Regions from separate parts of the Homo sapiens genome. Here all the other regions are linked to region 2. The links come from fine-mapping of genetic effects on gene expression. A gene starts in region 2. Each other region holds a variant in brackets. All regions are shown on one strand. Distances are between the middles of the regions.

What was found.
Region 1: its variant is fine-mapped to the expression of ARHGEF4 in whole blood (INTERVAL, PIP above 0.99).
Region 3: its variant is fine-mapped to the expression of ARHGEF4 in lung (TOPMed, PIP 0.92).

Annotation. Positions count from the first base shown.
Region 1 is chr2:130,949,056-130,951,807 of GRCh38, forward strand. The region is part of intron 4 of ARHGEF4 (Rho guanine nucleotide exchange factor 4); the gene reads left to right. Among named protein-coding and RNA genes, the nearest start is that of SMIM39, 85 kb to the right of the region's middle. RefSeq lists a silencer at 326-653. The variant A/ACC (reference allele first, on the strand shown) is at 1,631.
Region 2 is chr2:130,835,744-130,838,495 of GRCh38, forward strand. It overlaps ARHGEF4 (Rho guanine nucleotide exchange factor 4), which reads left to right and starts at 1,171. Exons shown (of 14, transcript NM_001367493.1): 1 at 1,171-1,249. The coding sequence starts at 1,211. ARHGEF4-AS1 (ARHGEF4 antisense RNA 1) reads right to left here and starts at 1,251. Exons shown (of 2, transcript NR_186036.1): 1 at 567-1,251.
Region 3 is chr2:131,036,367-131,039,118 of GRCh38, forward strand. ARHGEF4 (Rho guanine nucleotide exchange factor 4) reads left to right here. Exons shown (of 14, transcript NM_001367493.1): 6 at 2,487-2,666. Among named protein-coding and RNA genes, the nearest start is that of SMIM39, 2.7 kb to the left of the region's middle. The variant GC/G (reference allele first, on the strand shown) is at 1,494.

The DNA of each region.
Region 1 (2,752 bases), 110 kb after region 2:
ATCCATTTTCTGCCCAGTTCTGGGAGAATTTCTGTTTCATCTTCTGCTTTGTTTTCCTGTTTTGTTTTGTTTTTTTCTCACCTGTGTTCACTGCCTTCACTGGCAGTTTGTGATGCAGTGATCATGTTTTTAATCTGCAACAATCTTTCCAATGTCCTTTTGAAGCCATTAAGAACAGAAAATTGGGATTTTTGTAAAATTTTCTTGTTATTTCCAAATTTCAGTTCATTTCCAAATTCATCTGCTCTTCTTTCGAGGTTTTCTGTTTGTTTGTTTGTTTTTTATTTACTTTATTTTATTTATTTATTTATTTTTTGAGACGGAGTCTCGCTCTGTCACCCAAGCTGGAGTGCAGTGGTGCGATCTCGGCTCACTGCAAACTCCACCTCCTGGGTTCACGCCATTCTCCTGCCTCAGCCTCCCAAGTAGCTGGGACTACAGGGGCCCGCCACCACGCCTGGCTAATTTTTTCTATTTTTTAGTAGAGACAGGGTTTCACTGTGATAGCCAGGGTGGTCTCGATCTCCTGACCTCGTGATCCGCCTGTCTTGGCCTCCCAAAGTGCTGGGATTACAGGCATGAGCCACCATGCCCGGCCTGTTTGTTTTTCGATGGGGTCTCGCTCTGTCGCCCAGGCTGCAGTGCAGTGGTGCGATCGATCTCGGCTCACTGCAGCCTCCACTTCCTGGGTTCAAGCAATTCTCCTGCCTCAGCCCCCAAGTAGCTGGGGTTACAGGTCCCCACCACCATGCCCAGCTAATTGTTGTATTTTTAGTAGAGACAGGGTTTTGCCATGTTGGCCAGGCTGGTCTCGAACTCCTGACCTCAGGTGATCTGTTTGCCTCAGTTTCCCAAAGTGCTGGAATTACAGGCGTGAGCCACCACACATGGCCTCTTTTGAGGCTTTTTATTAATAGGTGAAATTTCTTTATTTGCTCGTCTGTGAGGACAGCAGTCTTCCCCCAGCAGTGGTGTGTTGTTAAGTAGCACTGGAAGTGACGTTCTTTCAGAGATTGTTATGGGTTCCTGTTAACATCCTTCAAACACAGCTGAAGGAGGATGAGGAAGGCAAGGCTTTCTTGTGATGAATGCCATGAGTCAGCGCCTAGAGGCTTGTGGGGAGCTGTCAGTAGTCCTGGCAGGGAGCTCCTCCCCCTCACTAGAATTTCTTCTCCACGTTTGGAAGGGTGGCCAAGAATCAGCCTGATGTGGGAGCAGGCCACCTCTCCCTGGCAAATCGGTGTCCAAGATAAACCCCCACCACACCCGCCCCTCTCTCAGTGGAGCTGGCAGGGCCAGGTACATCTCTGAGAGTCCCTGATGCCTCCAGAGTTCGTGCCTGTGGCTTTGGAAGGGTTGGCTGGGTTTTACCAGGACTACCTGGTAGTATGGTTATTTCACAAGCTGTAGGTCACCTCTTTCTTCAAACCACTTTGTTGTATCTTGTGGCTAACACCCTTCATCAGTCTCTAGTTACTAGTAAAGGATGCTTTCTATTTTTTAAACAGCTTTGTTGAGCTATAGTCATATACAGTTCGGTGGCAGGATATTCACAGATACGTGCGGTCATCACCAGTCCATTTTAGAACATTGTCAGCACCTCATAAGAAGCTCTGTACCTTTAGCTATT[A/ACC]CCCCCCACCACCACCCGAAGGAACCACTTATCTACTTCCTGTCTCTGTAAATTCCCTACCCTGGATTTGCCTATGGATGGAATCATGTAGGAACTGGTTTTGTGACTGGCTTCTCTCACTTATAATAATGTTTTCAAGGTTCTTCCACATGTCACATGTACTTCAGTACTTCATTTCTTTCTTTGGCCAAATAATATTCCATTGTATGGATACACCACAGTTTGCTTATTTATTCATCCACTGATGAGCAATTGGATTACTTCTACTACCTTGCACTTCAGTGCTAGGGAGATGGCTTCTGTCCTTAAATCTCAGGAACCAACCTCTGCTAGGTTTAGACTTTTCTTTTACAGCTTCCTCACTTCTCTCAGCCTTCATACAATTGGAAAAAGTTAAGGCCTTGCTCTGGATTAGGCCTTAGCTTAAAGGAGTGTTGTGGCTGATTTGATCTTCTATCTAGACCACTAAAACTTTCTTCCTATTGCAATCAGGCTGTTTCACTTTCTTATTCATGTGCTAACTGGAGTAGCACTTTTCATTTCCTACAAGAACTGCTCCTTCACTTTCAGAACTTGGCTGTTTGGCTTGAGAGGCCTAGCTTCTGGGCCATCTTGGCTTTGACATGCCTTCCTTACTAAGCTGAATCATTTCTAGCTTTTGATTTAAAGTTAGAGATATGTGACTCTTCCTTTCACTTGAAAACTTAAAGGCCATTACTGGGTTATTAATTGGCCTAATTTCCATATTGTGTCTCATGAATAGGGAAGCCCAAGGAGAGGGAGAGAGACAGAGGAATGGATGGTCGGTGGAGCAGTTGGAACACACAACATTTATTGATTAAATTTGCCATCTTCTATGGGCACAGTTCATGGCATGTCTTCACTTCTTGTTTTCCCTGTCTCATCTTTTTATTGTTCTATTCCTTCTTTACTGTTTTCTTTTTCACTGAGTGAATATTTTCTAATGTAGTATTTTAATTTTATTAATGATTCTTTCACTGTATTTTTTGAGATTTGTTTTTAATGGTAGCTTTAGCGTTTCATGTATATATATATAACTTACCAGCATCAACTTCAGATTTATACTAGCTTAATTCCAGTAATATATAGAACTATTACTCC
Region 2 (2,752 bases):
GCCTGGCCTGGTTGCTGTGAGGGCCTGGGGAGAGGCAGAGACAGGTTGGGTGTACGGAAAATGCACACTCTGCCAGGCACCCCTGACACGCACTGCTGACCAGGCATAGCGTTCAGTGGGGCTAGGACTTGGACGAGGGTGCAGGCTTGAGCAGGGGTGCAAAAAGCCAGTCTGGGCAGATGCTCTCCCTCTGTGGGGCGCCGATCTCAGAAATGGTGGACAGAGCAGGGCTGCAGTATGGTGCACATGGGCCTTGGGGTCTTAGCTTTCGTGGGCCTCTTCCTGCATAAAATAAAATAGTTAAAATTAGAGTTTACAACTGCATTCATATAAAGATGAATATACTCCAGGCTAGATTCATTATTATTTTATTATACTCAGTTTTTTTCTTCTGATTTAAAATAGTGCGGTCCTAGGGCTGGTTAGAGTGTTTCCTGGCAGGCCCTGTCTCCTTAAACCCCTGCAAAGAAAGCAGCGAGGACTTCCCTTTGCCCCTTAGCAGAAAGCTGCGCTCCTTAATGGTTACGGGTGTGACCATTCACTTACATCCTATCTGCAGGACATACCTGGAAAGGTAAGTGGGAGGCAAGAGGGAGCTGGAGGCCAAGACTTCGGTCCCAGATATCCTAGTCCACATTTGTCCCCACCAGGTGTGTGAGTGCCGGCGCGCTGCACAGCCTCCCTGGGCCTCCGTTTCCTCAACTGGTAAACAAGAACGCTGGGCGGACTGAACTCTGAAAGTTCTGGGAGCTTGACAATCAGAACTCTCAGCAGAGAGGCCGCCCCTGCTCTCAGGAGGGCGGAGGCACCTGAGTCTCCAGTGCGGAGGACAGGCCGAAGCGCTGCGTTGGAGATGTGCAAATGCGCAAGAAGCGTGCTGCTTTCTCTCTGAGAAAACACTCCTAGGCTTCAAGGGGGCCCAAGAGCTCGACTGGGCGGGATGATCCCGGCGGCCCCTGGGCCGGGTCTGTGGACGGCTCTGCTGTGTGCCTGTGCGTGCCCAGTCCCGCGGGTGACCAAAGCCCAGGGGCGGGCAGGGCAGGAGCCTGGACCTCACGTGCCTCCAGTGGCCAGGTTTGCGGGGGCGGAGCGTCCGGGCGAGGGCGCGGGGGCGGACCCTAGGGCGGGGCGCGGGGTGGCGTCGGTGGAGCCGGCTCGGCGGCGCGGCTCGTAGTGCTGCGGCCGGGCTCCGGGCGTCCCGGCGGCCACCATGCTCAGCGTCGTGCACTTCCTCCGGAGCTTCTTCAAGGTGAGAGCCGGCGTCCGGGACTTGCGGTCGGGCTCCCGGCGCCCTGCGCGGGTGGGGAGGAGCACAGCCCGCGCTGGCTGCTGCGCCCCGGGCCGTCCCCTGGGCACCCGGTGGGTGGGGACACCCTCGTGGCTCCCCGCCGCTCCCAACTTTCCGACGTGCAGACCGGAGGCGGCGTCCTGCAAAGTGGGGCCGTCTCGAGCGCGGGGAAGGACGGGGCTCCGTTGGGGGCGGTAGGGACGGCGGCCCGGGGCGAGCCCCTGAGAGGGCAAGGGCGAGCGCCTGAGCCGGCCTCCCCGCACCTGGACCGTCCTGGGCGCGCGGGGCACTCGGAGCCGCTGCCTGGACCGGCCTGGGCGCGCAGGGCACTCGGAGCCTCTGCCGCTTGGCGCAGTACCAGCTGTTTTGGGAAGGAGGGCTGGTGCCGGCCCGGTGGGTACGGGAGAAGTGGTTGCTGTTGTTATTCCCCAGGCTGAGAGTACGCGAGGGCGCAGCAGCGGCAAGGGGCTGGAACTGGGGTCGGGGCTGTTGGGCTCCTGCTCGGGGTGCCCCCTCTCTGGCCCGATTTCCGGGCCCGCTCACCATCCGGGACCCACTCAGTTGGGACGCCTCCACCTCGCTGCCCCCACAGGAACCCCAAGATGGGCCGGGGGCTCCGGGGCACTGTCAGGGGTGGCCGGCCACAGGTTGCCAAGCCCGACCTCCCCAGGTGAGCCAGCGGGAGGGCGGTTGCGACGCTGGGTGGTGCTGAGCTCCGATGGGCTCCTACTCCGGGAGCAACTGCATGAAAGGAGAGGCGGGGAAGAGCCACCAGCTGTCAGCTGCAGGTCCAGGGGGAGGCAGACCTGTGTGGGGCTGTCGGGGCGGGAGGGCGGGAGGGCGCCCTACTTGGCTGTGCAGCCATCTTCTCCCGGAGTTGAAGACGGGAGGTTGAGGTCGGAGTTCTGTGGCCCTGAGAGCTCTAGTGAAAGGGGCAGGAAGCCAGGTGACCCAGGGCAGACCTGCAGGAGCCCTGCCCTCAGCCTATCCGCTGGCCTGGCATCAGCTCCCACCCCCAGCGATAACGAAGTGATCGCTGGCATCAAGAGTGGAGAGGGCCGGACAGCCGGGAAGGCAGCCTTTCAGGAACCTGTGCTGGTGAGTGTAGGAGATGGCTTGGAAGAGCTCAGACCCCCTTCAAATGCCGACTCTGTCATTGAGGAGGTGTACAATCTTGGGACAATCACATAACCACCTGGGTCTTTGTTTTGAAAAATGTGGGTGATGTTTCCATGCCCTCCACACCTTTCAGGGTTAGTGTGAAGGTCTTATTAGAAAATGTGAGTGTGGCCCGGCGCGGTGGCTCATGCCTGTAATCTCAGCACTTTGGGAGGCCGAGTGGGGGGGGCGGATCGCCTGAGGTCACGAGTTCGAGACCAGCCTGGCCAACATGTCAAAACCCCGTCTCTACTAAAAATACAAAAATCAGCCGGGCGCGGTAGTGGGCGCCTGTAATCCCAGCTA
Region 3 (2,752 bases), 200 kb after region 2:
AGACACAGGAGGAGAGCTTGCTCACGGCACGTGTCCCTCTGCCAGGGTGCGACAAAGGCAATTAACACCTCCTCCCCTCCTCCCCAAGGTCTTCCAGCTGACTGGGCAGGACAAGTGTGGGGCTTGTCCCTAATGGTGCCTGGAAGCTGGCCTCTCTGTGAAGCCCTCCTCTTGCCCGACACCTGGTGACCTTCCCTGGCAGCTATGTGGGGGGCCACCTATGCCGGACCCAGTCCCACCTGCAGGGACAGGCAGCATAAAGGAAAGGGGAATGGGGGCACCAGGCTTCTGCTCAGGGCTCATTTAAGGGAACCTAGAGACAGAGGGTGACACCTCACCTGGTTAATATCAGGCAGGAACCTCCTGAGAAGGGAAGCAGTGGGAAAATGAGCCATGTTGAGTGTGTCGGGTCACCTCCTGACAGCCTGTGTCACAGACCCCAGGTCAGGGCCATGTCACCTACAGCTCACGCTCTCACTGGTGTCCCCAGACCGCCATGTCTGCTTCCTTCTTTCCCTGGAGCCTCATTCTTCAGGGCCTCAGCGGGGTGAGCCAGCTCCCCACTGTGGCTGGTGGGCTCCTACCATATGGTCGCCTGAGCCCTCCTGTCTCATCTCATCTGAGTGGCAGCAGCAGCTCATGATCTGGAGGCCACCTGCAGAAGGTCTTTGTGGCTGGGAATGAGAGCAGTGGCCCCCTGTGGAAGCCTGCTGCCCCCAGGAATAACCCAGGGCTCTGTGCCTGGGACCCCGTGGAGGCCTCTGGAGGTCTGCAGCCCCCGCGTGGCTGCCGCGCTGTGAGGGTTCCTGGGCTCACAGGCTCATGTGTCACTCTGAGGAGAGCGTCCATCAGGACTGGAGCAGGTTTTACCCCCAGGAAAGAGAAGGTTTGTCCTTCCCTGAACTTGCTTGCTCAGGACCCCTGGAGGAAAGCACCATCCCAAGCAGGCTCTGGAGCTTCAGTGCTCCAGTGGCCAGCCCCAGCCCTCACCCTGCCCATTCAGGCAGAGGCCTCTTAGCTGGAACACAGGACTGGCCCCACTCTTGGTTTCCATGTTGAGGTGAGGATTCACACAGTGCTTAGGGAGTACCCAGTGAAGTGAAAGGAGGGCTCCTGGGATGGGAGCTCAGAGGAGGGCCTGTTTGTGACATTCCCATCCTTGACCGCCCCCACAGCTGTGACAGCCAGTGCCAACACCTGGTCCTAGCAGGGAGGGTCGTGGACCTCACCTCCTGTGCAGCCCCAGCCCACTCCTCCTCTCCTGCCCTAAGGCCCTAGAACTGCTCATCATTCAGGGAGCAGAAACAGATCCCATGTTAGGAGAAAGCAGGGGTCAGCCCCATGGCGTACAAGGGCTGCCTGGGAGAGGCAGGGGAGCGTCCAGTGTCTTAGTCCACACCACTCTGGAGCAAGGCACTCTGCTGGTTATTTGAGCAGAGAGAAGCATGTGAAGAATGGTCGGCTAGGTATAATGTGGTTGACTGGGTAACACT[GC/G]ATAAGAGCAGTCCTGAAGTGCCTGTCACAGAGGTAGCAGCTGCAAAACGTTTCTGCTTCTCCTAGAACTTGGGAAATGAAGAGAAGAGGTTGGACTAACTCAAACTTAGGATCACAGGGCTTGGGACCTAGAGCTCTAAGAAGGGGCATTGCTCAGCTGGTGCTGGCATCTCTGGGGCTTGGGATGGGAGCAGGGGTGCCATGAGGTTGGTTCTGCAAGTGTTGAAAAACACACAGTAAACAAGCTCCAATCACTCCAATGGCAGGGCACTGTCTACCTGGATGAAGGGGCATTGTGGTTGGTGGCTGACCTTACAGGCAATGCTCATCCACAAGAAGCCCACAGGAGGGCACCAGCCCCCAGCCCCTCCCTCCTGCAGCCTTGCAGCCCAGCCTCTCCCTCCTGCAGCCTTGCAGCCCTCAGCCTCTCCTTCCTGCAGCCTTGCAGCGCCCAGCCCCTCCCTCCTGCAGCCTTGCAGCCCCCAGGCCCTCCCTCCTGCAGCCTTGCAGCCCAGCCTCTCCCTCCTGCAGCCTTGCAGCCCTCAGCCTCTCCCTCCTGCAGCCTTGCAGCGCCCAGCCTCTCCCTCCTGCAGCCTTGCAGCCCAGCCTCTCCCTCCTGCAGCCTTGCAGCCCTCAGCCCCTCCCTCCTGCAGCCTTGCAGTGCCCAGCCCCTCCCTCCTGCAGCCTTGCAGCCCCCAGGAATTCTGGATTGGGAATGCTAACAGGGAGCAGTTGGCAGTCCCAGTGACAGGATCAGATTCTGTGGTCAGTTCACTTCCGGCTCCATCACTGAGCCTTGATAATCTAGACATGCCCAGAACATAGCCCCTGCCCCAGGAAAGCCCTGCTCCTGTCAGAGGCAGCCTTGTCAGCTCCTCTGTAAAGAAGTCAGGATCCCCTCTTCCCAGGGCTGCTGAGGGAGTGGAGACAGAGAGCAGGGAGGCCCAGGCAGCCTCCCCCACTGACCCGCCTGCCCGTGGCTCTCTCGGCAGCTCATCAGCGATGGCAGTGTGGTCTGCGCTGAAGCACTCTGGGACCATGTCACCATGGACGACCAGGAGCTGGGCTTCAAAGCTGGGGACGTCATCGAAGTGATGGATGCCACCAACAGAGAGTGGTGGTGGGGCCGGGTCGCCGATGGCGAGGGCTGGTTTCCAGCCAGCTTCGTTCGGGTATGGTTCCAAGCCCCAGCTTCTCCCAAGTTGGGCCCATAAAAAGCTACCTGGTTCTGCAGAGAAATCCAAGCCCAAAACAGCTC